4 separate regions of the Homo sapiens genome follow, and all the other regions are reported to be linked to region 1. The links are microRNA targets in miRTarBase. Many come from high-throughput screens and were not tested one by one. Region 1 holds a microRNA gene; each other region holds the end of a gene's coding sequence.
The links. Region 1 holds the annotated microRNA hsa-miR-7-1-3p (CAACAAAUCACAGUCUGCCAUA, at 4,349-4,370, shown strand). A microRNA usually pairs through its seed, bases 2 to 8, with sites in the 3' UTR of a target mRNA and lowers its output. Matches are read on the target gene's strand: a 7mer-m8 pairs with bases 2 to 8, a 7mer-A1 pairs with bases 2 to 7 and ends in A, and an 8mer does both.

Region 2: miRTarBase lists AKIRIN1 as a target of hsa-miR-7-1-3p. Seed matches in the 3' UTR shown: 7mer-m8 at 4,370-4,376.
Region 3: miRTarBase lists PFDN2 as a target of hsa-miR-7-1-3p. Seed matches in the 3' UTR shown: 7mer-A1 at 5,959-5,965.
Region 4: the mRNA of DGKI is a reported target of hsa-miR-7-1-3p. Seed matches in the 3' UTR shown: 7mer-A1 at 1,854-1,860 and 8mer at 201-208.

What each region holds. Positions count from the first base shown.
Region 1 is chr9:83,966,710-83,974,140 of GRCh38, reverse strand. MIR7-1 (microRNA 7-1) reads left to right here and starts at 4,284; the gene lies at 4,284-4,393. HNRNPK (heterogeneous nuclear ribonucleoprotein K) reads left to right here. Exons shown (of 17, transcript NM_031263.4): 8 at 168-239; 9 at 742-855; 10 at 1,169-1,297; 11 at 1,952-2,259; 12 at 2,415-2,469; 13 at 2,785-2,868; 14 at 3,229-3,244; 15 at 3,322-3,404; 16 at 3,810-3,979; 17 at 4,701-6,058. The coding sequence ends at 4,734. HNRNPK-AS1 (HNRNPK antisense RNA 1) reads right to left here and starts at 2,046. Exons shown (of 2, transcript NR_186535.1): 1 at 1,864-2,046.
Region 2 is chr1:39,002,828-39,010,258 of GRCh38, reverse strand. It overlaps AKIRIN1 (akirin 1), which reads right to left. Exons shown (of 5, transcript NM_024595.3): 4 at 6,841-6,912; 5 at 4,200-6,214. The coding sequence ends at 6,204. Among named protein-coding and RNA genes, the nearest start is that of AKIRIN1, 15 kb to the right of the region's middle.
Region 3 is chr1:161,094,623-161,102,053 of GRCh38, forward strand. PFDN2 (prefoldin subunit 2) reads right to left here. Exons shown (of 4, transcript NM_012394.4): 3 at 7,426-7,431; 4 at 5,939-6,237. The coding sequence ends at 6,061. KLHDC9 (kelch domain containing 9) reads left to right here and starts at 3,739. Exons shown (of 4, transcript NM_152366.5): 1 at 3,739-4,440; 2 at 4,724-4,883; 3 at 4,976-5,174; 4 at 5,439-5,724. The coding sequence starts at 3,914. The coding sequence ends at 5,602. RefSeq lists silencers at 3,873-4,052, 4,113-4,162.
Region 4 is chr7:137,385,122-137,392,552 of GRCh38, forward strand. It overlaps DGKI (diacylglycerol kinase iota), which reads right to left. Exons shown (of 33, transcript NM_001321708.2): 33 at 1-6,215. The coding sequence ends at 6,099. Among named protein-coding and RNA genes, the nearest start is that of PTN, 45 kb to the left of the region's middle.

The DNA of each region.
Region 1 (7,431 bases):
AGAGAAAAATATTTTATGTTTTGAATCGTCTTAATGTTGAATAAAGCAGTTTCTCATTATTTAATAATATAGATTTAAAATATGTTGTAGTAGCTTTACCAATATATGCGACAATAGCCTGATCACGCTAGACACTTAACCTATTACTCTTATTTTTCTACTTTCAGGGCCTGCAGTTGCCATCACCCACTGCAACCAGCCAGCTCCCGCTCGAATCTGATGCTGTGGAATGCTTAAATGTATGTCATAGTGCCATTGAACCCCACTGAAGTATGGAGCCTGGCCCATAGGATCGATTATATTTTTAACATAGTGTGCTTTTCCCATCTCTATAGAAAAAGGCTTAAAAACATGATACATGAATGGTCTTACAACTCACTGTTGACCCTGCTCCATGCTGCAGTGGGAATTAACTACATTTGCAAAGTGCTTTGCAGTCATTTTTATTATGGTGTTATTTGAATGTTAATAATAATTTTGTGGTAACAGCGACATGCTAAATGGCTGCAGTGTGGGTATGGTGTTGCAGGACCTGAAAATAAAATAGTTTTTTAAGGTGGTGCAGAATGTCCTTTTTGGGCCTGGCTATTGAGGATAATAAGCACATAACTGGTAAAGTTATTGAAATATAAATTCAGGTTGCTCACTGCAACAGTATATTATTGTTATGCTTATAGCAGATAAGTGTGTATTGGGGAATTGTTGATTTGAGACTAAAATTTTATAATTCTCCCTCCACAGTACCAACACTATAAAGGAAGTGACTTTGACTGCGAGTTGAGGCTGTTGATTCATCAGAGTCTAGCAGGAGGAATTATTGGGGTCAAAGGTGCTAAAATCAAAGAACTTCGAGAGGTAAAAAAAAAAAAATTCTGCCGTATTCTTTGCTGGAAAGTAAATTTTCATATAGACTTGTTTCTGTGAGCTTCTCTCGCTTCCCCTCTCAGTTCCCTCCAAAGATTGCTTATCGCAAATGACAAAAAATGTCTGGCACTGCTAGACATGTTATTTTGTCAAAATTTTTATACCATTGCAAAGCCCTGTGATAATTAATGAAGTTTTTATATTGTGGGGGGTTAATTGTTGAATTCAAATGCAATTTTCACTGAACCTAGGAAAGCTAATTTTCTTCTAATTATTATTATTTTTTTTTATGATCTTACTACAGAACACTCAAACCACCATCAAGCTTTTCCAGGAATGCTGTCCTCATTCCACTGACAGAGTTGTTCTTATTGGAGGAAAACCCGATAGGGTTGTAGAGTGCATAAAGATCATCCTTGATCTTATATCTGAGGTACTTCAGAACACTTTTTGTTTACATTTGATTTTATGAAACAAAGTGATAACCTTCTGCAAAAGTAGCTTCAGAGCATTTAGTCTAATAGTCTTTATTTGCCCTTTCCCTAGCAATTTTCTATCACCTGGCTTCAGCCATCACTTTAATTTAAAAATGGTTTTGAAAAAGTGGAGAGTGGTAATTTGTTGGTGGTATTTCTATAGCCTTTGAGCCTTTGAATGAATTTCCTATAGTGTTGCTTGTGTCTTTGTAACTATGCTGCAGGGCTTCCTATCTCAGGTGCCTCAGTATGGATTACAGGCTTGCCAAGACTGATCTCTTCAGCCCTTGTTGTGAAATGTGCATTGTAGTTTGTCATGTGTAAAATGGGAGGGCTTTGTGGTTTCTTACGATCTAAGTGTAAGAGCAAGCTATTACTTCTCCCTGTATAGGCAATAGAACTCACTTTTGTTTAGCATTTGCCAAAAGTATTGGATTTCTTTGGAATCTTTACTTTGCTACTTTTAGCGTTGACATAATTCCTGTTTCTGTCTCTAGTACCTCCTGATGGGGGAATGACTTACATTTTGTTTGATGATGATGTTAGAAGGATTGGTATGAAGCAGGACTCTTTTTCTTCAGTCTGTAAGTTTGTTCCATCTCTGTTTTTAGTCTCCCATCAAAGGACGTGCACAGCCTTATGATCCCAATTTTTACGATGAAACCTATGATTATGGTGGTTTTACAATGATGTTTGATGACCGTCGCGGACGCCCAGTGGGATTTCCCATGCGGGGAAGAGGTGGTTTTGACAGAATGCCTCCTGGTCGGGGTGGGCGTCCCATGCCTCCATCTAGAAGAGATTATGATGATATGAGCCCTCGTCGAGGACCACCTCCCCCTCCTCCCGGACGAGGCGGCCGGGGTGGTAGCAGAGCTCGGAATCTTCCTCTTCCTCCACCACCACCACCTAGAGGGGGGTAAGTTGTTTTTTTTGTTGTTGTTGTTTTTTCTTCCCCCATCTATGAATTATTAACCTGCAAGAGGCTGCACTTAGTGGTAGACAAGGTAGACTTTGATTTGATATGTGTGGCATGTAAGCACGTTTAGATTACAACAAGTACTATGCTTGCAGAGACCTCATGGCCTATGACAGAAGAGGGAGACCTGGAGACCGTTACGACGGCATGGTAAGAACTTTGGTTTATTACCAGTGTGTTGGGTATGTGAGGGTTGTCACAATGTAGTTCACGTTTTGTTGAAGGTTATAGTGATTAAAAAGTTTTTCTTACAAGTAAATTTTGTTTGGATTACTAGTTAAATAATTCTGTTATTTGCTGCTGGAGGATTACGACTTTATTGAGCTTTGTTCCCCTCGATTACAAAATTGCTGCCTATATATGTACCCTCTTTTGTTTTAATGTAACATGCAAATTAGGCATATTAAAAACAGCTCTATAACAAAATACAATGCGGGTTCATGTTAATGTTTTTATCTCTAACAGGTTGGTTTCAGTGCTGATGAAACTTGGGACTCTGCAATAGATACATGGAGCCCATCAGAATGGCAGATGGCTTATGAACCACAGGTTGAGTATCATAGTTGTTCGTGTGTATATCAGTGATAATTTAAGATGCTTACCTGCTCTCCAGTAAGTTTTTTATTCCCCTGAGGATACTTACTGAAAATAGGATACAGGAGGACTTTGGTTTCCTGAAGAGGGATTTTATGAGATTAAAATACTTGAATAGTGAAGCTGGGTGCAGTGGTGCTCACTCATAATCCCAACTACAAAAGAGTCTGAGGCAGGAGGATCACTTGAGCCCGAGAGTTTGAGACCAGCCTGGGCAACATAGCAAGACTCCATTTTATTAAATGAATTTTTTTAAAGTACCGGTAGTAATTACAACGGCAAAGTAATTTTCTATTTTTTTCTTTCTGTTTTTAGGGTGGCTCCGGATATGGTAAGTTCTCTCCTTTGTGAAGTCAAACATTAATTTCATACTTTTTAAATGAACTTACTGCTCATTATTTAAATCAGATTATTCCTATGCAGGGGGTCGTGGCTCATATGGTGATCTTGGTGGACCTATTATTACTACACAAGTAACTATTCCCAAAGATGTAAGTATCTTTAATACTACCAGGAACATTTTATCACTTTTATGATTATTCCTCCTTTCTGTATATTTTTTAATTCAGAAGGTTTTAACAAAAATACACATTTAGGATTGAGGTTATGTTAATGGGCTTTAGTGAGCTGGGTTTTCAGCTGTTTGAGTCTTGTCAAGTGATCAGTGCTATTAATAAAAGTAGTTAAGTAGGTTTTGAGCCCTTAACTAACTAAGGGAAACATTAGTAAGTGTGACATAAATACATTATAACTCAAACCTTGACAGGTTTAGGGAGCGTTAGATCATCAGTTAAGATTCTGAATGAATAAAATTAATAACTTCATGCTCCTTGAAAATACAGGTAGTAAATGTTAAAAGTATATCGTAAACACATACTTTTAAAAAATCTTTTCAGTTGGCTGGATCTATTATTGGCAAAGGTGGTCAGCGGATTAAACAAATCCGTCATGAGTCGGGAGCTTCGATCAAAATTGATGAGCCTTTAGAAGGATCCGAAGATCGGATCATTACCATTACAGGAACACAGGACCAGATACAGAATGCACAGTATTTGCTGCAGAACAGGTCAGTTTAAGTTTAGCTTTGTGTTAGCTTATACATACTAAAACCTTTAAAAAGCTTTTCTTCTCAATTGATTTTTTTCTTTTAGAAGCCATGGTGTCTCAACCTTTTGGGGACCTAACTTCTAAACATTCTAATAGTTTGCCTTAATTTTTCTTCTGCTTTCTTACTAAAAATGAAGACATTCAATACTAATCTTGCTGGAAGAAGCCTTAACCAAGCAAACTTCTCATTTCTCTGGTGAAAACTGCTGCCAAAACCACTTGTTAAAAATTGTACAGAGCCTGTAGAAAATATAGAAGATTCATTGGATGTTGGCCTAGTTCTGTGTGGAAGACTAGTGATTTTGTTGTTTTTAGATAACTAAATCGACAACAAATCACAGTCTGCCATATGGCACAGGCCATGCCTCTACAGGACAAATGATTGGTGCTGTAAAATGCAGCATTTCACACCTTACTAGCATTCTTTGTCTTTTCTACCAAATATTAACAACTTTCAATTCCGTTTTCTTAATTCTGTTCTACTAATGTCCGATTTACTACTCATCATTTTTCTTGACACTTAACATTGCTTTAATTTGTAATTGCTAATGGTTTTTGAACTCTTCTAATTGTAATGGACGTGTTTATCATTTTAATTTAGCATTGAAATTGTCTTGATGTTGATTAAGATGTTACGAGCAAAAATTCTAATTCGCACTTTTTTTTCTTTTCTTTTATAGTGTGAAGCAGTATGCAGATGTTGAAGGATTCTAATGCAAGATATTTTTTCTTTTTTATAGTGTGAAGCAGTATTCTGGAAAGTTTTTCTAAGACTAGTGAAGAACTGAAGGAGTCCTGCATCTTTTTTTTTTTATCTGCTTCTGTTTAAAAAGCCAACATTCCTCTGCTTCATAGGTGTTCTGCATTTGAGGTGTAGTGAAATCTTTGCTGTTCACCAGATGTAATGTTTTAGTTCCTTACAAACAGGGTTGGGGGGGGGAAGGGCGTGCAAAAACTAACATTGAAATTTTGAAACAGCAGCAGAGTGAGTGGATTTTATTTTTCGTTATTGTTGGTGGTTTAAAAAATTCCCCCCATGTAATTATTGTGAACACCTTGCTTTGTGGTCACTGTAACATTTGGGGGGTGGGACAGGGAGGAAAAGTAACAATAGTCCACATGTCCCTGGCATCTGTTCAGAGCAGTGTGCAGAATGTAATGCTCTTTTGTAAGAAACGTTTTATGATTTTTAAAATAAATTTAGTGAACCTATTTTTGGTGGTCATTTTTTTTTTAAGACAGTCATTTTAAAATGGTGGCTGAATTTCCCAACCCACCCCCAAACTAAACACTAAGTTTAATTTTCAGCTCCTCTGTTGGACATATAAGTGCATCTCTTGTTGGACATAGGCAAAATAACTTGGCAAACTTAGTTCTGGTGATTTCTTGATGGTTTGGAAGTCTATTGCTGGGAAGAAATTCCATCATACATATTCATGCTTATAATAAGCTGGGGATTTTTTGTTTGTTTTTGCAAATGCTTGCCCCTACTTTTCAACAATTTTCTATGTTAGTTGTGAAGAACTAAGGTGGGGAGCAGTACTACAAGTTGAGTAATGGTATGAGTATATACCAGAATTCTGATTGGCAGCAAGTTTTATTAATCAGAATAACACTTGGTTATGGAAGTGACTAATGCTGAAAAAATTGATTATTTTTATTAGATAATTTCTCACCTATAGACTTAAACTGTCAATTTGCTCTAGTGTCTTATTAGTTAAACTTTGTAAAATATATATATACTTGTTTTTCCATTGTATGCAAATTGAAAGAAAAAGATGTACCATTTCTCTGTTGTATGTTGGATTATGTAGGAAATGTTTGTGTACAATTCAAAAAAAAAAAAGATGAAAAAAGTTCCTGTGGATGTTTTGTGTAGTATCTTGGCATTTGTATTGATAGTTAAAATTCACTTCCAAATAAATAAAACACCCATGATGCTAGATTTGATGTGTGCCCGATTTGAACAAGGGTTGATTGACACCTGTAAAATTTGTTGAAACGTTCCTCTTAAAAGGAAATATAGTAATCTTATGTATTTTTTTGTGTGAAGTGTTTTTCTAGCATTTATAAGTGAAAGCTGGCAGGGGTGGTAGTTGGGCTCATAATTAACGTGGTAATTTAGCAAAATGAGAGCCTAGTCATCCAATTTTTTTTTTCTTATAGTCAGCCAGAGCTTTCCTCATTACCTATGAGAAATTTTGAGTGAGTTACTTGGTTCCTTTCTCTAAAATAGCTTTAGTTTGATGTTTGAGAATATCGGAGATAATGTAAAATAACTGCAGAGTATGGTTCCCGGCTCATATTTCTGAAGTACTACTTATTAACCTCCAGCTGTCCAGAAAGCTTGAAAACTGTTTTTGTTTTGTTTTGTTTTGTTTTTTGAGACAGTGTCTTGCTGTTTTTCCCAGGCTGGAGTGCAGTGGCATAATCTTGGCTCACTGCAACCTCCATCTTCTGGGCACAAGCAATCTTCCTGCCTCAAAACAGATGAACAACTATATAGGAAAGGAGTCATGAATGTAATTATTGAATTTAGGTCAGAGGCTTGTGTATAATAAAAGTAACAGTTGGGCAGTTCTAGAATTCATGTAAGTATTAATAGTATGAACAGAATAATGTCTTTTAAGGGAAGTAGAGTTGAGTGACATTTAGTTTGGGGAGGGACGTAGAGTGATCTTTTGATTAATGAAGAACATGAAGTAAATGTCAAAATATTACTTAAAACTAGTGAATGCTACCTGTGGTATGGTTTCCCCAGTGTGGTTGAGTTGGGGTTGCTCAGGGTGAAATGAGCCCTTACCCCTAAAGAAAAATGACAAGGACACTTTAGTCAAATTGTTAATCCTACTGAAGGAAAGCATCCCTGGAGAGAACACTGGCTTCCAAAGCTTTTATCTGTTACCTGTAAATGAGTTATGTAACACATGGACCATTAGCTGCAAATGTTTTCACTTTTGCATTTTACAATAATTTCAGACCTTAAACACATCATTCTACTGAAGACTTAATGGATTGAAGAATATCTGGTATTGATATCTTTGATATACAGCTTTGGGAGGGAGAGGGGCCTTTTGCATTGCCACTGCTATTGATTGGTAAATGGTATTTAAAATTTGGGTGAGAATTGGGACAGGTTGGGAGAATTTTCACAAAGGGTGGGAGAAGTGAACATAAGCTCTTTAATTAAATGGAATATTGAGACAATTTTGTAAGAAGTTACTGGTGTATAATGCTGACTTAGTTTCAAAAATTTAGCCTAACTTTTTGTAAGTTAATTACCAAAATGCCAACAGACAGAAACCAAGTTGTACTAGTTATCTCAAGAATTTAAAACCTTTCCCTACTATTCAAATTTTGTTTGCCTTTGTTTTATTGTACTGAGACATATAATGTAAAATACTAAATCTG
Region 2 (7,431 bases), not on the chromosome of region 1:
TATTCCGGAGGCTGAGGCAGGGGAATCCTTTGAACCCGGGAGGCAGAGATTGTAGTGAGCCGAGATCGTGCCACCGCACTCCAGCCTGGGTGACAAGAGTGAGACTCCGTCTCAAAAAACAACAACAAAACCAAACAAAAAAAGTAAACCAGTTCTCAAGTGGACTTGCCACCAGGTTATATTTAATCTGGATGACCTGAGGTACTTTCAGCCTTCTGAAACCTGCATCAGATGATTTGGTAGTATCCTCAGCCACAGGCAACATAAATCCTTCTTAGAGATAGATACCCTCATTCTTGTCCTGTTCACTCCTGCAAATAATAATTTTTTTTTTTTTTGAGATGGAGATTTGCTTGTTGCCTAGGCTGGAGTGCAATGGTATGCAATCTTGAATCACTGCAACCTCCTCCTCCTGGGTTCAAGTGATTCTCCTGGCTCAGCCTCCCTAGTAGCTGGGATTACAGGCGCCCGCCACCACGCCCGGCTGATTTTTTGTATTTTTAGTAGAGACGGGGTTTCATTATATTGGCCAGGCTGGTCTCAAACTTCTGACCTCATGATCTGCCCACCTTGGCCTCCGAAAGTGCTGGGATTACAGGCGTGAGCTACCGCACCCAGCCTGAGCCACCATGCCCACCGTAATTTTTCAAATATACTGTCCAGCTCACAGATAACCAGGCATAAAATGAGATACTACACAGGGCGCGGTGGCTCACGTCTGTAATCCCAGCTCTTTCAGAGGTTGAGGCGGGTGGATCACGAGGTCAGAAGTTTGAGACCAGTCTGGCCAATATGATGAAACCCCTTCTCTATTGAAAAATACAATAGCCAGGCGTGGTGGCGGGCGCCTGTAATCCAAGCTATTCAGGAGACTGAGGCAGAACTGCTTGAACCCAGGCGGCGGAGGATGCGGTGAGCTGAAATTGCGCCACTGCACTCCAGCCTGGGTGACAGACTGAGACTCTGTCTCAAAAAAGAAAAAAAAAAAGGAGATATTAGATACAGCAATAAGTAAAACGAAACAAAGACCCATGAAGACCAGAACTTTAAATTGTCAAAATATCACACCTTCAGTACAATAAAGTGCTAATTATTTACTTGAAAGTATGGTTTGGTGGCCAGGTGCGGTGGCTCACACCTGTAATCCCAGCACTTTGGGAGGCTAAGGCGAGTGGATCACGAGGTCAGAAGTTCAAGACCCACCCAACCAACATGGTAAAACCCCGTCTCTACTAAAAATACAAAATTAGCTGGGCGTGGTGGTGCATGCCTGTAATCCCACTTACTTGGGAGGCTGAGGCAGGAGAATCACTTGAACCCGGGAGACGGAAGTTGCAGTGAGCCGAGATTGCACCAGTGCATTCCAGCCTGGGCAACAAGAATGAAACTTCATCTCAAAAAAAAGAAAAAAAAAAAGTATGGTTTAGGGTGGGTTAATGTACGCTTTTTTCCAGGTGTCCAACCTTATCCAGTTTAACTGTAGCTCTGGAAGACTACAGCACTCCCTCAATCTGTTTTCAACAAAGGACTCCAGAGTAGTAGAGAAGTTTCTGTTCCTTTTTAATAGCCCATGGGCACTATTACACTCTGTTCCTTAAGAACAGTATTTTACAAACTATTTTAAAGCCATGCTATTTTCTGTTAAACAAAATTCTCACACCCATTTTTGTACCTAAAATTCCAAAATTAAAAATGCTTGAAATAAAATTGGTCATTTCAAATCTTTTTCCCTCCCCAAATAGTATGCTCTGTGTCCCCATCCTTGAGAATCATTGCTCTAAACAGTTGTTCAATAGCTTTTTCTGTGACATACTTACTTTGGCAATCAGTTTTTATTTGTAAGCAAAAAGGGTATTTTCATCACACCTCAACTTAAGGTATAACAGCCTTAAGAATGACAAATTAGGGTAAGTGTTGACCAACTCATGATGCAACAAGGATTATAAATGAAGTAACTTTGCCTTGTTTGTTGCTCTTTTTTCTTTTTTTTAATTGAGACAGAGTTTTGCTCTTGTTGCCCAGGCTGGAGTGCAATGGTGTGATCTCGGCTCACCTCAACCTCCACCTCCCAAGTTCAAGTGATTCTCCTGCCTCAGCCTTCCAAGTAGCTGGGATTACAGGAATGCACCACCACGCCCGGCTAATTTTGCATTTTTAGTAGAGATGGGATTTCTCCATGTTGGCCAGGCTGGTCTTGAACTCCCATTCTCAGGTGATCTGCCCGCCTCGGCCTCCCAAAGTGCTGGGATTACAGGCATGGGCCACCGTGCCCAGCCTGTGTGCTTTTTCCCAAATGTTTCTTCATGCTTTAGTGCAAAGGCCAGCACACTTTTCTGTAAAAGGACACAGAGTAAGTATTTTCAGCTCTGTGGCCCATGCTTTGGTCTTTGTAGCACCTACTCTACTCAAGTCTGGAGTTAGTGTGAAAACTGCCACAGACAAATGAATAGGTGTAGCAGTGTTTCTACAAAACTTTACAAAAATAGGCCAGTTTTTGTATGACCCTGCTATATTAACATACAAAACATACTGAATACAGATTCACAGAAAGGCATTACCAAATTCATTTGTCATTCATCTTTTATTTCCTTAATCAAACAAAGGTACAAATTCTAATAAGAAAAAGTGAGATCTTTATGTTAACAAGGGGCTATTCATATTGGAAAGCTGAGAATCACTACTTGGGACACAAAAGTTTGGGTCTCCAGGTCTGACGAAGACTACTATAAAGAAACCTGCTCTAACATTGTAAAGTGCATAGTCTATGCCCTAAGCTGTGCTAAATACTTTCTTTACATGGATGATTTCTTGCATTTGAAAACAAAACCCAATATGAACCTACTATTAACCTCGATTTTACAGGTAAGCAAGCCATGTTTCAGCAAGTTTAGTAATCTGGCAAGGCTGACATAACCAAATTAGTGGCAGAGAAGAAACCAAACTACAGAGCTACAACCACGCAGTCAGTCCTTTACTATGCTAGCCAACCAATCCTCCATGGTAAGAAGATTCACCAGGTTTGAAAGATTGGCTTAAATCCTTTTTTTTTTTTGAGACATAGTCTTAACTCTGTTGCCAGGCTGGAGTGCAATGGCACAATCTCGGCTCACTGCAACCTCCGCCTCATGGTTTCAGGTTGATTCTCCCGCCTCAGCCTTCCAAGTAGCTGAGATTACAGGCGCCCGCCACTACGCCCAGCTAATTTTTGTATTTTAGTAGAGATGGGGTTTCACCATGTTGGTCAAGCTGGTCTCAAACTCCAGACCTCGGGTGATCTGCCCCTCAGCCTTCCAAAGTGCTGGGATTACAGGCGTGCGCCACCCGCTGGCTTAAATTCTTGTACTCTCTGATGGTCTTCCCCTTTGGAAGATCTTAACAATTATCACTGCCTTAGGAGCTCTGATCTTCCTTTTAACTTCTGACCCAAGGATGGACACTTACTTTTTCCTCTTAAGCTTAAGACTTTATCAAGGATAATAACTGGAATTAAAATAGAGAAAAAAATTAGCTAGCTCACCAGATATTCTGAAAACACTGTTCCTGAGAAACCCTTATACGTTTTTATAGGTTGACGTCTTCCTTGGTCTATAATTTCCATGGGACAAAGACATTTCTCTACCTGGGAGTGCCCTTAAATTCAAGCTCTGGAAATCAAGGTCTAGGGAAAAATTCATTCACCAGTCTGAGACCTACCTTCCAGGTCCCCATTTTCTGTCCCAGTTGTCTTTTCTCTAGATTATAAACACTAAACAAACATGTGTGGTCTCTTTAGAGGGGATCCCAAAACCCAGCCCTGGTGGTTTGGTCTTACCTTGTGGCCTCAGAGGGCTACCTTATCATTATATGATAGCCTAACAACAATGTGGTATAGTGGGGCGGGTGGTGAGCAGGTGTCATTTTCCTTAGAGAAACCTACTCTACTTCCCAGCCAGGAGCCACTTAGTTGGAATGGGGACTGACACTTTATAGTTAAGTGAGCACATCACACTGATCTCTAAAACAAGACTTCAGTGGGGCAGCATTCCCCATTACCAGTCCAGCCTCCACAGCTTCTGATGGCTCCCACAGCTGCCCTTTCTTTATTTTGGTGTGACTAGCCCACTGCAGAGCCATTCCCATTACAGCCACTGCTATGTTCCTCTTTTAGGAACAAGTGACTACCCTGAAAAAAGAAGAGATGAAACAAATCACCCTTCAAATACAAAGTAAAATCATTCTTTAATTATTAAAAAAAAATCACTGTTGGGCTTTTTTTTTTAAAGGTCCATAAATTTTCAATGCAATGTTGAACTGGGGAAATGGTTATAGCAGCTCTCACATAAGTTATTTGAATTAATAAACATTATCACAGTATTAAGAAGGCAAGGTAAACAAATAGCTTAAGTATTTTATTTGTTTGCAACTAAGCTTGTTAACACTATATAATGAAAATGTACAAAGAATAATGTTGCAGTTTTTGGTTAGATTTAAGTCAAAGACATTCATTAATAAGGAATCTTCGAATGTGAATATTCCAGAAATTTCTCTAAGCCATCTGATCACAACAACTGTCTCTGAATATTACCTTACTTTGGAAGGTATTGGCATACATTTGAATTAAACTCAGAATTTTTCAAAATAAGCCCTAATTAAAAAAACTATTCTATATTCAAAGTAAAACAATATTAATAGAACTTTCCTTTCCAGAAACAATGAAGGAAACAAGGCATTTTGTAAAATGTGGTCCTGAACAAGTCACAGTAAAAAATAAATGTATACTTAACTTCCACCTCCTCAAAACAGAGGCTACTTTCTGTTCCTCAGCCTTGGAAACAAGGTGAAGAACAGCCTATATGCGACTTCGGGCAGGGGGTTGCCAAAACAAAGCTGAAGCAGTTGACCATGGACACCTCAAAAGAATTTGGGAGAACCCGACCAAAGGATCCAAATTCTATGTTTTTTTTTTTTTTTTGAGACGAAGTCTCGTTTTGTTGCCCAGGCTGGAGTGCAGTGGCATGATCTGTGCTCACTGCAACCGCCACCTCCAGGGTTCAAGTGATTCTCCTGCCTCAGCCTCCCAAGCAGCTGGGATTACAGACGCCTGCCACCACGCCCGGCTAACTTTGTTGTATTTTTAGTAGAGATGGGGTTTCACCATATTGGCCAGGGTGGTCTCGAACTCCTGACCTCAAGTGATCCGCATGCCTCGGACTCCCAAAGTGCTGGGATTACAGGCGTGAGCCACTGCGCCCAGCCCAAATTATATTTTTTAATAACTAATACAAAGGTGAAGTGGCTCCTCCCAAGTAGCAGTGCTGCCGGGGCCTGGCCCAGGCCTAGCCCTGGGCTCACCTCTCATGCTCCCAAGCCAACCCTGATGCTCCTGGCTCCAGGGTAGACCTTTTCCCTTTAGAGGTTCAGTGTCCAGGGAGCTCTATGATAATTGTGTGAATGAGGTGAGCGCTGACTCCATGTGAGTATTTTAAGGCTTGGAGTCAAAGAATTAACCTAACATGCCCAGGCAGAGTCCATGTGTCAATGGCCCGTCTCCAGTTTGTTCTAATTTCTCACCACGTGTCTGTAGATATAGGACCGCAGACCTTCGCTTTATCATCATAATCACATCTAATGTCCATCCTAACTTACGATTCATATTCTGTGCCTGGAAACAGTCCCTGTATTTAACAATACCTACACATAAAAACAATCCACTGTTACAACTTGTATGGTCACAAAACATTAATGATCTTCTTTAGACCAAGCAAATGTTTTTTTACCATAATTGTCGTGCACCAAATTCACAGCCAGAATCCCCAAGATCAAAAAAAAATTTTTGCACAATACAAATAATAACTTAAAATACACATACACACATATACACACACTCTCACACGCACTTCTTACAGAACTGTGCTTGGGGAAACTCCATTTGTTGAATGCCACTGAAGGCATATTTTGCTAAACTGCTGCTCCAGGTATTTTTGTTTGGAAAATCTATCACAGTAGGGCACAGCTGTTTATTGGATGAGCAGAAAAGAAAGATATGCTTGTGGCAACCAGAAAGTTTTACGGTCTTTCAAGTTGTATAAAATGGACCTGCAGAAACGTTTAAGTGTTCTCAGGATGCAAAGTTGGAGCTGAAATGTGACATCAAACCAGTTGCAAAAAGTGTACAGCAGCCATCTCTTGAGGTCAAACCTGGTACCCAGATATGTGACAAAGCTTCATGACACATCTGTAAATTAAGAATAAAAAACAAAAAGGGTAAGAATACTAAAAACTGTAGTGTCATGCTTTAAAAATTTTCACTAACAGTAAATGTGAGAAATAGCATGAACGATGACTCACCACTTAAAAGATACTAAAGATCAAGAATTTAAGGAACCTGACTGAAATTCAGTTAGATATACAACTGTTAATATTTTATGCTTTGAATATCTGGTAGTTGCAAATTATTTAGAATAAGAAATCCTGACCACACTTGATAAACTAACTTAAGGAATCAACTTTCATAAATTAACAACTGAAACTATCTTTCTGGAGAAAAGACAGGTAACAAATTGGTGCTCAAGTCAGACTACCTAGATTTTAATCCTAGCTGAACCACTAGCTGTATAAGCTTGGGCAAATTATTTAACCTCTTTAAATGCTATCTTTACCAGTAAAATGGAGCTAATAATAGTACTCCCTCATAGGGTCACTGTGAGGCTTATATAAGCTTTGGTGTGGATTTAATACTCTTAGCATAGTGCTGGGCACATTTTACTTCACAGGGACTTTTTACTCTGAGGAGAGAAGTTTCAGTGTAGAAATTTTGCTCTTGAAACTTAGAAAATTCAAAGAAAATGTGGCAATACTTACAGCTTGTTGGCCTTGTCCCATACCGTCGCATAATCTGATCATGTGTGAATTTCACAAAAGATTCATATTGTTCTGTGAGAAGACAGTACATACTTATCCTCAGCAACTCTCCCTCAATTTTTAAGAATCAAGCGTCAGGATCACAAATAGCTTCCCAGTTTGAATTCTTCACCCTCTCAGGCCCTCTTTATAAAGGTCCTTGTATTAAAGTCCAGTGACCTTATATAAAGGTCACTGAGATCTGTTCCTCTTAGAACCCAGAGCCAAATCCTTGGCTTCTAGAATGGGTCACTGATGGTATATAATGGTATTTTCCTGATAACCTCTCCCCCGTGACATAACTCTATCTCCTATTAATAGCTCACTACCATAGCCAGGAAATTTCAGCCCATCTCCCATGGGACATGAATCTTTGAAACTCTTTCCTTGTTATAAATTTCAACACACATTGAGTGAAAAACATGAGTGGAAGAAGTGTGGGATGGCTAGAAAGCTAAGTGAAAATCTATACCATCTAACTGCAAACAGTTCCACAGAAGTACCACCTTTTAAGGGGAAACTGAGTAGAAAGGAAGAAGGTAGCCTGACATC
Region 3 (7,431 bases), not on the chromosome of region 1:
TCAGGGATTGTATTGGAGACACACACACACACACACACACATGCGCGCGCGCGCCCGCGCGCGAGTTATTGAAGGGGGAGAATTCAAAGAGACAAAGTGGCTGAAGTGGCCAAGACAAAATCTGAAACAGAGACAGAAGGACCCGAAGAGAAATTTCTGGATGCCATGATTACTCAAAGTCCTTCTGTCTTCTGCCCTCAATTCCCACCGCTCAGCAATGACCCAATGATACTTTCCTACTCAACATTGCCTACTCCCTCAACAACATAAGCTTCTCCCCATCCTTATTCCACCTCTCCATCATTCTCTACCTTGGCTGATTACCACTCCCCTCCACCCTAAAGCCTGCTTACAATTTCACCTTTCTCTCAATCTCCTTCTAGCTCACATTCAGTCAAAGGAGCTCTCAAGATCTGACCTCATGCAGTCTCTTTGCCTGGTCATTTCTCTGTCCTTTTGTCCCTGTCTTTATTCTGGCTGAGCTGAGAGCAAAGAGTCAGAAATGGGGCCAGGATGGCATAGGGCCAGGAAGTCAAGCAGCTAGAATGAGCTGTGTGAGAAATAGAGAAGGGTCAGGGTACAGCAGAAGAAGAGTCAAAGAAAGGGCCTGAAGGATGGGGACAGCCTGGGAGACATGGGCAGAGGGAACTGTGGGAGTCTTGAGTGCGATTAAGACCGTTTGGTGCAATTGTTGGTCTTTCTTTCTTTCTTTCCTTCTTTCTTTCCTTCCTTCCTTCCTTCTTTCTTTCTTTCTTCTTTCTTTCTTTCCTTCCTTCCTTCTGTCTTTCTGTCTTTCTCTCTCTTTTCTTTCTCTCTCTCTCTTTTCTTTCTTGCTCTCTTTTCTTTCTCTCTCTCTTTTCTTTCTCGCTCTCTCTTTTCTTTCTCTCTCTCTTTCTTTTCTTTCTCTCTCTCTTTCTCTTTCTCTCTCAGTCACCCAGGCTGGAGTGCAATGGCACAATCGCGGCTCACTGCAACCTCAGCCTCCCAGGTTCAAGCGATTCTCTTGCCTCAGCCTCCAGAGTAGCTGGGACTACAGGCATGCACCACCACGGCTGGTGAATTTTTTATTTTTTATTTTTAGTAGAGATGGGGTTTCACCATGTTGGCCAGGCTGGTCTTGAACTCCTGGCCTCAAGTGATCCACCCACCTTGGCTTCCCAAAGTGTTGGGATTATAGGCGTGAGCCACCACACCCAGCCCAATTGTTGGTTTTCTGTATGTACCGAATAATGCTAAGAACCAGAGATGGTTCCAGGGTCAGAAAATGGGGTTAAGGAAGGGAGAAGATAGAGTAAGAGCTTTGTGAAAGTTTGAGGCAAGGGGGCGTAGATTTGGGGCTAGGATAGACATCTAAGGCTAGGTAGGAAGCTGGGTGCTTGCTTGCTAGAGATCATATAGACTCTTGGCCAACTGAGACAAAGCCAACATCAGGGGATCACATCAGGATTACGAGACTTTCAGGATATCCAGTCCCTGCTCTCATTTCTGGACAGAGGTTGTCCCTGGATATTATTAGCAGGTGAAAGCAGGTTCACAGCCCTGGCTGCCCTTTTCCCTGTCTCTCACAATTTTCTCTCAGTTCCCCCTTTCACTTATCTTAATGCCCTTTCAGTTTGTGTATCATTGACAAGGTCATTATAGACCACTGCAGATGCTGTCCTGCGGTGTGAAGCATGTGTCATACAAGTCCAGGTTGGCTGGTTTGCTTTCTTCCTCTCTCTGTTTCTCTCTTTCTGGCTTCTTTTCTCCCTCCTCCAAAATATGGATTTGGTTCAAACTAACCTAAGAAGGTAGGAGTCCTAGGCAGTTCCTCTCCCAGGGTCTTGGGATGGCAAAGCAATGGACAGATGCTTCCAGCTATTAGGAGGAACTGGAAGCATCTAGGTACAGAACTGGAGAGGGTACAGCCAAGGAGTATGTGAGGTTCAAGCTCTATGTCTAACTAAGATGCCTACTGCTAAGGACTCAGAGTCAGAGAGGAAGCTGGGAGAGAGGAGCTGGAAAGGCCCGTGGGGTGGGGAGTTCCCATTTCTATCCAGGAAAGGCAGAAAGTAAGTCTAACAGAACAGCCAAGACTTAGGCAAAAGCAAGAGCCTAAAATGGACATATAGGCCAATAAGGTTTAAGCAAAATTGCCCCACCCCTGAGGCAAGCCCTTGCCTAATCCTAGGAGTATGACAGATCTGAATCCAGCTGTTGGGAGGTTAGCCAGTGAGAAAGAAGCCTGAGGGAAAAGACTGACTTTTAAATTTCAGCCAAGGACAGTAAAAGTTAGTGATTTTTTAGAGATTCTTACCATGATTTTGGAAAACTGAGAATACTGCCTGTCATACTCAGGGAAAGCTATAGTTGGGAGGGCAGAGACTTTCAAAGCTATTGTTGAATCTTGGCTTTAAGGTACAGGTGGGGAACAGGTCCTGGTAATCTTCCAATCTCTGTAACTGTGCCTTTCCTGCCCATGCCATCCCCATGCTGTGTTCTCTGAGGACCAAGAGTTGGGAAGAGGAGGGGAAAGCCCTGCTGTGCTATCAGACCCTGCATTACATGCCCATCCTCACTGCAGCCCTGGCCACTGTCTCCTTTCTTCCTTTCTTTATTTCTTTTCTTTTTTTCTTTCTTTCTTTCGCCAGGGTCTCACTATGTTACCCAGGCTGGTCTTGAACTCCTGAACTCCTGGCCTCAAGTGATTCTCCTGCCTGGCCACTTTCTATGGTCTCAGTATCTCAGGTATGATGGGGAGCAAGGTGATGTGTAGAAACCAAAGGCCACAAGTAGCAGTCATCATTCCCACTTACAGCCCAGTCCCAGAGGACACAGATCCTGTTTTTGCCCCACACCAGCTGTGTTGGGAGGAAAATTCTGTCTGTATTTCCTCCTTCAGCTGAAAGCAGAAAGCTTGCATCTGGGCCTCTTCAGTTATCACTTGGTCCTGGGGGACAGAGTTAATATCTGGAAACTGGCTTAAATAAAAGATATCAGGGAAGGGTAGGAGTCTGTTTTTCTCATTTTCTCACTCTTCCCCCACTTCACCCTTCTAAGGCTGCGTGGGTTCTCTCTCTCTCTCTATCTCTCTCTCTCTCTCTCTCTCTCTCTCTCTCTCTCTCTCTCTCTCTCTGTGTGTGTGTGTGTGTGTGTGTGTGTGTGTGTGTGTGTGTCACCTGAGAGACTGGGTTCTGCTACCCTCTAGTGGCCAGAGCTGAAAGGACTCTCCCACCCAATCAATCGGGACCTTCAAGCCTTTGGGAATAAACGAACAGCCTATTTGATGAATGACAAAACTGAGAAGGCCTAGAGAGAAACAATGCCTTTGAGGGTCAGGGGCATAGTTGGGACTAGAACCCAGGTCTCCTGTCTCTCGGGCCAGTGGTCAGTCCACTTTCACTTCCCCACCCTCTGACTTTTGCTTCTCCTTCCTTGCTCATCCCTGGGGTGGTTAGCCCGAGTAAGAAACCCTGAAGCCAAATGATCCCTCCCGGCCCTAGTGGAGCAGCACCTGCACCTCAAATGTCAAAATCGCAAATCAGTTCACAGCGGAGATCACAGGGGTTTATTCTAAGGACCCGACTGTCCTCCGACTTTCTGAGGTTAACAATCTTGCAGGATTTTTATTGACCTGATACAGCTCCCGTAGCCTTGGTGGCACCACCATACGGTTCCCGATAGCCACCCAGGTGTCCTGTCTCCACGGTAACTGCTGCTTTGCGACCTTCGGTTTGCAGCGGTCGCGCTGCAGCCGCTGCAGTGGTTGCTGGGCGACCACGGAGAGAAAGCCGGGACTTGAGGTGGGAACCCCGGCTGGCGTCCGGTAGGGGGAGGTTCCCGGGGAAGCCCGCGGAAGGCGAGGTGCCTGGCCTGCCATGTAGGGGCTCGTTCCAAGCCGCAGACCCCACCGCCCTCCCTCTCCCCGGGGCCCATGGCGGTGGCCGTGCCCCCGGGTCGGGCCGCAGGCTCAGGCTGGGCCTGGAGGCCAGTGGCGCGGGACGCGCTTTTGGCTAGAGCTTTCCATTCATGCACCGAACTGCGGGGACGGTTCTATCTCGTAGGTGGTCTCCTAGCAGGAGGAGCGAGAGAGCCCAGCAGCGATACGGTGGTTTTCGACCCAGCTAGGGGCCAGGCCGTACGATTGGGAGCCCGGGGCAGCCCCCCGCGCAGTCACCACGACGCGGCACCCGTGGACGGGCGTTGGCTCTGCGTGGTGGGCGGCTGGGACGGGTCTCGCCGCTTGGCCACAGTGACCGCACTGGACACAGAGCGCGGTGTGTGGGAGGCGTGGACAGGGACCCCTGGTGACTGCCCCCCCGCCGGCCTCAGTAGTCACACCTGCACCCGAATCTCTGACCGAGAGCTGCAGGTGGCTGGCCGGGAGGGCGGTATCCACACTCAGCGACGCTATGGAAGCATCTACACATTAAGGCTGGACCCCAGCGCCCGCACCTATTGGTATGGCACCCTCCGCCCAAAACCTTTCACTCTCATCCACACTCTCGAAAAACAAAAGCCTAAGCAGATTTCTCAGGCAATTTATCCACCTCCTCACTCTAGCACCCTCCTTCCAGGGGAACCTACCATGTTTAAGCTAGCTGAGCTCTCTACAGTATTACCCTCCCTCTTATCCCACCTACCGCACTGCCCCATGCCTCTTCTCCATCCATCCTTGGCAAGGGCGGTGGCACTTACATTTTCCAGAAAACCCACTCAGCCCTGAATTTCTGCATGTCCACAGCTACAAGCAAGAAGGCTGCCACACAGCCTCACGCTCAGGTCACTGTGCGGCCCTGCTCCAAACTCCTGGACCCCATCCAGGTCATCAGCTATTGCTCTTTGGAGGTTGCAACTTAGCTGAACCAGAAGTAGCTGGGCATTGGAGTCATGGGAAAATTAAGGTATTAGCTCCTCACACATCTTGTTTAGGATGGGAAGAGGCTAAAATTGTGATGCCCAGGTCTCTTCGGACAGTCCTTTCTTTCTCCCCAAGGAGGAACCACCTGTTGCTCCTCATTTGATGGAACAGCTTGCAAGGCTTGTGAGCAGTGGGCAGGGGTCCCAGAAGGGGCCCCATGGACTACGGCATCACTCATGTTCTGTGGTCGGGCCCTTTGCTGTGCTGTTTGGTGGAGAAACTCTGACCAGAGCTAGAGACACCATCTGCAATGATCTCTACATCTATGATACTCGTGAGAGCCAGACTAATGGCTGAAGGGGGGGAAGGTGGGAAGATGGGGGAACCTGAAGACTACAGAAAGAGGATGGAGTGATGGGGTAGGGAGGAGGAAAAATTAGTTGACAGGAGTTAAAGGAGTACACAGAATATTAAGCATTTGAAGAGGCCTACAAATCAAGTGAGCAGAAAAACAATGGGCAAGCCCTTGGTCATGTTGAATTCTGTGAATGACAAAGTGCTACTGCCTCAATAACCACCCTCTGCCCGTATCCAACAGGCACATCTCCTCCTTTGTGGTTCCACTTCCCCTGTGCAGATCGTGGGATGAAACGCATGGGCCATCGCACCTGCCTTTGGAATGATCAGCTTTACCTGGTTGGGGGTTTTGGTGAGGATGGCAGGACAGCCAGTCCACAGGTTTGCATCCTGGACTTTATCTAAATAGTGCCAAGACACATCACTAAGCCTCGTTTTGTTTTGCTTTGTTGCAAACCTATAAAGCGTTATCACCAGAGCTATCTGCTTCACTTCAAATGCTTATTAAATTTCAATCTGAGACTCAAGATTTGTCTCTGAAATTTTTGGGGGGAGGGGGAAGGGCAGTAAATAAGTGGACATACCTTTATTTGCAAGGAAAGGATAAAATAAATATGGGTCCTACTCTCATATTATGAGTCATTAACCTGATGGAAACAAAAACCACACATCATATGCTGTTCCGTGTCTCAAAACAATTTCCACCCCCAAGTGGGAGAAAACTTCAGGCTACAGCTAAGATTCTGACCAAAACATTTAATTAACAAAAAAATATTACAATAGCAGAGAAAATAATAATAATAACAATAAAGAGAAATTAGAAGTGGGAGTCAGGGTAGAAAAAAATGCAAAGGCCTTGGTCCCTAGGAGACCAACACTCCAGCTGAGCTGGCCTTAGCCCCAGCCCCTTCTGAGTTTTCCTTGGCTGCTGGCTTCTCATCTTCTCCCATGAGACGAATGTTGTGCTTTTCCCGGAATTCATTTAGTTCTTTTCCCTTTGCCTGAAGCTGCTGTGTCAGTGTCTCAATGATCTTCTGTATCTAGAGGACAAGTGACAGGGATTATATAAGGAATTCAGGACTCCTTTCCCCCACCTGGAATGGACTATGGTTGGAGGAAGTGTTAACACATTTAACCTTACCTTTAACCAAGTAGAGGAGCCCAGACATTAAAATTATTCCTTTCTTGAACACAGTGGTTTATACACTTTAATGTACTTAGAATCACCTGGGCTGCTTATTTTTATTTTTTACAGAGACAAGTTCCTACTATGTTACCCAGGCTGGTCTCAAACTTCTGCCTCAAGCAGTCCTCCTGCCTCGGTCTCCCAAAGCGCTAGGAATACAGGCATGAGCTTATTTTTATTTTTTCATTTTTTATTTTTAATATTTTTTTTTTGAGTTGCAGCATCGCTGTGTCGCCCAGGCTGGAGTGCAGTGGTGCAATCTCAGCTCACTGCAAGCTCCGCCTCGCAGGTTCACGCCATTCTCCTGCCTTGCCCTCCCGAGTAGCTAGGACCACAGGCGCCCACCACAACGCCCAGCCAATTTTTCGTATTCTTAGTAGAGATGGGGTTTCACCATGCTAGCCAGGATGGTCTTGACCTCCTGACCTCGTGATCCGCCCGCCTCGGCCTCCCAAAGTGCTGGGATTACAGGTGTGAGTCACTGCAACCTGCCTAGCTTATTTTTAAAATGTCACTTCATGGCACTCCCAAAGGTTCTAATCCAGTGGGTCTGGGAAGCTGCATTTATAAATTAGTCCTTCAGGTGATTTTGATTCATGTATTCGTGAAACACACACTATGAGAAACATTACTCTAACCCCAATCCTCCCACCCCAATTCAGCCAAGTCACAGAGCCCACAGCAGTCAGCAATTCCTCTTGTCTAAGAGTTGCACTTAGCATAGCATAATGAGCATAGGCTATTTTATGCTGCCCTCCTTTTATCTGAGACAGGGTCTCACTCTGTCACCCAGGCTGGAGTGCAGTGAGGTGATCACAGCTCACTGAAGCCTCGACATTTTAGGCTCAGGTGAGTAGCTGGGACTACAGGCACATACCACCATACCCAGCTAATCTTTTGTATTTTTTGTAGTGATATGGTTTCACCATGTTGCCCAGGCTGGTCTCGAACTCCCGGACTCAAAGAGTCCACCTGCCTTGGCCTCCCAAAGTGCTGGGTTTACAGCCACTGTACCCGATCCTATTCAATGATTCTTGCTCACCTGCTC
Region 4 (7,431 bases), not on the chromosome of region 1:
AATAGAATTTTACTTGACAATGACTAAGAATACTGATCAAAATTTATAAGCTTCCAGAAGTATTTTTAATTAAATTACACCTTTTAGTATGTTTTCTTTTGACTAGCTCTTAAATTCATGCTTAGTTTAAAATTTTTTAAATGATAACTAACGGCCATTCCCCTAGATATTTTTAAAATTCTCAGTTATAAAGCAAAGTTTAACAAATCAAAAATCAAGATTTTCATGAGTTTTTAAAATAAAATCCTGCCATTCAACAAAGCCATTAAAAAATATCTTTTGAAAAATCACAGCATCTAATTTTAGCCCCCTCAAATCACATATTCCTAATCACAACACCCCTCAGAGTGGTCAGGTATCCTCTGTTTAAATGCTAACAGAGGCTGAAAGTTTATAACTGTGATATCCACTCCACTATTACATATTATTTGTACTTCATCTTCTTTATATTTAGTCAAAACCCACTGAAAACTCTGCTTATTTTTCCTAGTTCTATCCTGAGAGCTAGAATAAATCAGTCTTAGCTTTCATTTTAATAGTGTTTCTAAGTCTTGTTTTAAAATCTTAGTTTCAGATACATTTTTAGAAATCTACTATGACTCCAGTAAAATGGAAATGCAAAATATTATTCTCTTCCTACTTATGTTTTCATTGAACCAAAACATTGCTGGCTAATGAGTGGCTGGTACAATAAAGCCTTGGTTGAATTTCCAGCCCATGCTGGACACCCTGGGGTTCTCCTGCACTGCACTTATCACATTGGAATTTGTCTTTTCTTCTAGATGCCAGCTTCATGAAATCAAGAGTTTTGTCTATTACATTCATTGTTATATCCTTAGTATGATGCCTGCCTCAGAGTGACAAATATTTTTCAAATAATGATTAAATACATGCACTTATGATTGATTCATGGACATATGATTACATGCATAACTGAATACATATGTAAATAGACTCTGGAGTCTATGCATTATGAAGATACCATTCAATTTTCACGTTTCTATTTTAAAATCCATGCTACAAGAGCCTAAGAATTATTTTTCTGCTTTCTTTCTGGGACCTGGTCAGTAAATCTCAGTGTCCTGGGAGAGGAGGTTGTCCAAGGGCATGACTCTTTTCTTGGTTCTTATTTTCAGGTTTCTCATTAAGCTGTGAGGAGACAGTGTAAAACCAAAGATGGCCCTCAGCAGTGTAAAATCTATAACCTAGTCCTCCAGGTGCCGTCAAAGAGGCATGTGGCTTACATTGTTGAATGAGGAAGCAGCAGCCGTGATTGTGTACCCTCATGGGACTAAGACAGATATTTGCTAAACCTGATAGATTTTCAGAATCATGCTTGCCATAATTCTATAAGATGATCAAGGTCAGTGGACATCCATGTGTCCTTTGAGTAAAAGGTATACTTGTCCCAGAGGGTAATTTCATTTTGATGTATTTTGAGCATAATATCTGGGGAAGATTTTTGCAACTGCGTGACAAAATTATTGACAGTAGTAGGCAGAAAGTTCAGGGACAGGACTGCCGCTATGGCCCAAAACTTAGAGAGACAAGAGATAATGGATGACTGGGGACACAGAAAAGGGTAGGGTCCAAGTCGATCTGACAGACCTGGCAGAGAAGGACCTGTAGGACTTCTAATCAGCTGAGTATGAGATTCAGAGTGAAAGGAGTTGAGAGATTCAAAGGTGGTTCAATTAAGATGCAGGCAGAAGCCATTTTATATTAAATAAGTGTTAAAGATTAATCAGAAAGCTAATTTATTAGATGTTTTTCTACTTCTTTTCCTAAAATGAATATAATTCATTTAAATAGAACAATTAGTAGTTTTATTTGATGGTTATGATGAGCCATTTTAACAAAGTCCCATTTTTAAATAGCATAATTGAATAAAATATGCTGTTCTCAGTGATTTCATTAGCTACTCCTTCTGGAAGGAAGACAAGCTGCTCAGACCCCCATACTACACTGAAGTTACACCTTCCCGGAAGTAGCCTGCCCTAATTAAATATCACTAGGCAACCTACTGAGTGTTAGTGTTACAAACAGCCTTGTAAAGTGGTGTAAGCATCACAGAGGAAAGAACTCTCCTTTACTTGAAATACAAACATAGCATAGATAAGTCTTGGGGCTATGGTAGGTTTCATGCTTCATGGAAGGCAACATAAACAATTACAGGAACTCTTGGTCATGAATTTTATGACACAGGTAATAGAAAATGCTAAGTGCAATTGTAGTAATGCCATAACAGATCTAAGCCTAGCAATGGTGGAAACAAAAAAATAAATGGAACTTCTCTGTTTAACCTGTCTTTGCCTACTGGTGTTCACTAGACATATACAAATGATCAGCATGCTTTTAAAATGTTTGCTCTTTTCTAAACCTATGCAATATACATGAATATAGTATACATACTTGCATGTGTATATAAATAAATGTCTATATATGTGTGTAAATGTATATGCGTATATACATACATACTTGTGCATGAACGGATGGGGTATTTCTGACATCACATACAAGCAACAGTGTTCATCAGTGTTAACCGTATTTATTTTTGGGAAGTGGGACACAACACCAGAACAAAGGGATGCCTTGACTGTGGATGTGATACTCATCTGTGGTATTAAAACATTTTATAAAAAGCATGTGCCATTTTTATAATTTAAAAAAACCCCTAAATATTATTAATAAAATTGACATGTAATAAAATAAAGATGCTGTGTCATTTTTTAAAGCCATGAATATTATAAGGGGTCTAGTAAATAAATAAATTTCAGAAATTCGTTAGGCAAAGGGACTCTCACTAGGTCCAGATGAAAATGAAGTGATGTTGAGTAGCTCCCAGCACAGGCAGATCTGCCAAAGCAGCCATTCTGAAAGGATAAGGAGCAACAGGTATGTACGGCTCTCCATCAGTCATTACTAATTTCCATCACTGTGCATTTGCCAGCTAAATTATGTTTCAAAACTTGCACTGGTTTTTGGTTATCACATCTACAGAGGAAACATAAGCTCTGAAAGCAAAATTCCTAGTCATGGTATTTATTCCATTCTTGGCTTACTAATCTTCTCTCTTATTCTTTATGAAGTCCTTGAATACGATAAAGCACAGTTTAACTGTGTTCTATTTTGTTAAATGCACAATATTAAAATATAAGCTTGCAAAAATGACTACCTTTCAGGTTACAGAATGTTGTCTTTTAATAACTCTTCATTTTCCATTCCTCTATCAACCACATCTAAAAATGGAATCTCAAAGCAGTCAGTGCCATGACACAAAGAAACAAACACAGAGGAGTCAGCCAAGCTAGCTGCCTCTTCAGTGCTGTCTCAGTAGGCTTTGTAGAAATGATATTTCTATAGGTACATATTTTTATGTCTGTTAAAGTTACATGGCACTTCAGACCAGGACTAGATCACTTGCTTTCCTGATGTCCTAATAGTAGGGATACAATATACTTAAGCTGAGATGGAAACTCCTAGACCATAAGGCCTTAGCTCTTTCCAAAGCCCAGGACCAATTTTTAAAACATGCTACAGGAGGTGGTTTAATGTTGAAGCCATTAAACATGTGGTTATTCTGCTCACTTTATTTTGGAAATCCCAAGTCCTAGTGGTACTTGCTTTTTTCAAAGCGATATATCAAATATTGGTCTCCATGAATAACACAGGACTCTAATGCCTTTTTTTTTTTTGGTTTGAAAAAATTTCCAAATGCATCAGGAATCTTACAGTACCAACTCATCATTTTTCATAACACAGATTTATGTCTTCAATTGGAGCTATTTAGAAATTGGCCCATAGCCACCTGTACCCTAAATTTTCTCTGGGCTACTTGGAAGTATTTAGAGAAATGTGAGATGGTAGTTGATGAAAACAGAGTTCTTCATCCCAACAGTAACAGCTAGATAACTGACTGCTTGGCCAAACATTTGACTCAATCCAGGGAATGGAAGATGCCATTCAAAGCCAGATTCCAGTTTGTGTTAAGGATTATATTTCTGTCATCACATTTCCTTGACAGTCCCGCCAACTAAAAATCCCCCAGCAAAAGCCCAGTGATTAAATTCTCCTGGAGCATATTTTTCCAGCTTCTGGAAACAATCTGCTGCAGTGTCTCCTGTAATATCCAAAGGATAGTTCCATTTCTGAGGCTGATATATGGAAGTAGATTACTCACAACCCAATCCATCCTCCCACCAACAATTTGATTTTGAAATGACTATGGAAAGACTGTGGTAATAAAATCCCCATCCACTGAAAGGCTGTTCCTGTTTAATATAGCACGTCATAGCCGCACTTTCAAAATGATGATATGTTACCGAAATGTGACTCAGATAAGCAAAATGTCACCATTAGACTTTTAAATTAAATGTAGAGACACTATCATTCATGGTCATATGTAGAAACATTAGGGAAGCACTATGCTATGTCCAAGGACAAAATGAAAATAAGCTCAGGAGACGTCAGATTTCGCCAAAAGTAAAATCCTTGGACACCTACTTTTATTTTTGACTTACCCCCAAGTCAAGTAGATATTTGGACAGAAAGACAGACATTTTCTTCTGATATTTTAGGGATCACAGAGTCCCTAAGAGAGGTACCTGTAAGTACCATTCGATCCGTGGCAGGTTTAGATGTTACAATTCTAACTATCTGACAGACATTTCTGGCTAGATTCCAATGGTGGTTTGCACTAAGGACTTTCTGAAAAGGGAAAAATAAAGTAGATAAAATAATATATTAGACTACCCCATACATAGAAAATGGGGTTATTAAGTACGACCTTTGGACCTGACAAATAATAGTTGAAGCATCCTTCTGAATGATCCAGGCATCCCATAAATCTGGCAGTGGAACTCATACAACAAGCCTTTGTTCTTGGGTCAAGGATTACTTGGAGTAATGAAAACCAAAAACCTAAAAGAAAGACCTAAAATGGGGCTCCTCTCACCACTGTATCCAACAGTCTATAGTTATTAGCCTCTGTGCAACATTCCAATGACTGTTTCCTATTTCAGTGACATATGTTGACATATGTTGCTACTTTTGCTTTTGCTGTTTTTTTTTTCCAAGTCAATTAGGGTGCTTTCTATTATCATTCAACAAAGTTTAGAAGTAAACATTGTTAGAGTGCTCCATTTCCTGTAACCACAGTTCCCACACAGGATTATTTGCTCTGCAATTTAAACAGCACTTAAAATTGAGTGGTTCTGCAAACTAGCTGTGGGCCTCTGTTTAATCCTTTGCTCATCTTCTATTGCAGCAAAAGGCAAAGATGGCTACACATAGGCAGTACGGAGCTGTACAGACAGCCCAAGCTGAACCAGTCCTGCATGGCTATTGGCTACAGCCCAGCAGCCTGGGCTGACCCCTGGGTTACCTCTCTGAGGTACCTCCAAGCACAGACATCTCCCATGCCACCTCACCATTCCTCAGAGATATAGCACACAAGTTGACATTATCCATGTGGCACTTCCCAGCTCCTATATAATGAAACGGAGGGTTGGCGGGTGAGGGGGACATGCAGAGAGAGTCACTAAATAGTCTTGATATATTTAGTCTTAGAAATGGAAGTGGTTTTACAGTTATATTTCTGCAGGACATTCAGAAGGTTTTAGAAGGCCTTCAGACAATCTTGTGGTCTTCCAAGACTGAATGTAAAGAGAAGAGATAATATTTTTCTTTAAGTTGATGGGTAGTTACAGTAGAATTGTATGGTACAGGGAAAAAAACCAATGCATAGGGGGAGGATGGAGCAGTGCCATTTATACGAACATCCTTTGAATCTTTAAAATAAATTATACAGGTGAACACAGAAGTTCATGCTACTTGCTGGAAGCAATAAGGATCAAATTTTGTGGAACTCGTACTGTATTCCACAAATCTCCAGGTATCCTGCCTCCTTCTCAATGGGCTATCATGTTCTGTTGTACATCTTGGTAGCCCTTAAAAGCTAGTGGCATGGTCTCAGGTAGATTCTTGCAGGAGAGAGACAGATATATGAATTCCATCAGCTTCTTCCAGGGGAGCTGCCCAATTGCAGGGAGGGCAGATGTGATACGCTTGCTCATGTCCTCTTTGCCCGAATACCAGGGTCAAACAGCAGTTTCCAGGTCCTCATGGCCAATGACCTTATAGTTCTGACGGCTTTCTAGGTAAGCAGCCAAGTCTGGGTCCCCAGCCTGCTGTGCTCTTTCTTGAGGTGTCTTACCCTATACGAAAATAGTGAGAAAAAAAAAAAGAGAGAGAGAGATAGACACAAGCGCTAGTCGTGAAATACAAAAACAAAAAACAAAACAAAACAAAAATCACAGAAACAGAACTACGCAAGGATACCTGCTAGTAAGGATCCTTTCACATTTGGTGTTTTAGAGTTTACAAGACACTTTCAAATCTATTGTCTTATATGAGCATTAAATTGAACATGTGCGATTGGTAAATGAAAGGGAAAGAGTTTATCACTTTTGACGGGTGGGGTTTATACTAGGGAAACAGAAGTTCACAGAGGTTAACAGTATACAGAAGGAAACAGTGGGGTAAAGCGAGTTTTGAAACCCAGAGCCTTTCTGGAAGATGGGGAGGTAGAAATTACTGAATTTAAAAAATAGGGAGGCAGGCATTTAGATTTCTAGTTTAGGACTCTTTCTATTATTCTAAACTTGGGAAATCAACATACAGAAACTAAAAGGAAGGGATAGTCATAAAAAAATTGAAAGGTTTTCTTTATTGGTTTCAGACTTGGGCTATTTCATCTCTCTAAAAACTAAGCTAGTTTCTCAATACAAAAGTGGTAGATATTGATTAAAGAAATCTTGGAAAGCTTGAAAAGCACAAAGAAGAAAAGGAATATCCCTAATCATTCCACCAAACTAAGATAACCACTACTAACCTTCCATTGATAACTAGATTTTGTCTTTTATATGCCTCTATACGTATTTTTATAAAAACAAAACCACAATTCATTTACATACTGTTTTACAACCTTTCTTAGTAATATATCATAAATTTGTCATTAATTTTTTACATCAACATGTTAAATGATCATATAATTTCTTACAGACTACTATAATGCCTTTTGTACACTTATATACACACATATACACATATATTTGTATATATATATTGCTATTTTTTAAATGAGGCCACTGAATAAGAAGTCAGCAGTAAAGGGAGAAAGAGTGTCCATTCTTTTGAATGCCTGTATATATTACTTGGCATCGCTCAAAATTTCTAATTTTTGTTGAATGATAAAGTTTTAACTATTTAAAAAGTTATGTTAAGTTCCAAAGGAAGGGTAGAGGCATGATCATTGTACCAAATAAATAGCTCCATGTACAAATGCACACAAGTGTTATAAATATTATCAGAGACTTCTCAGCTTTCATCTCGGCTATCCCAACAGATACTGGCGACCTCAATCCAACCTGC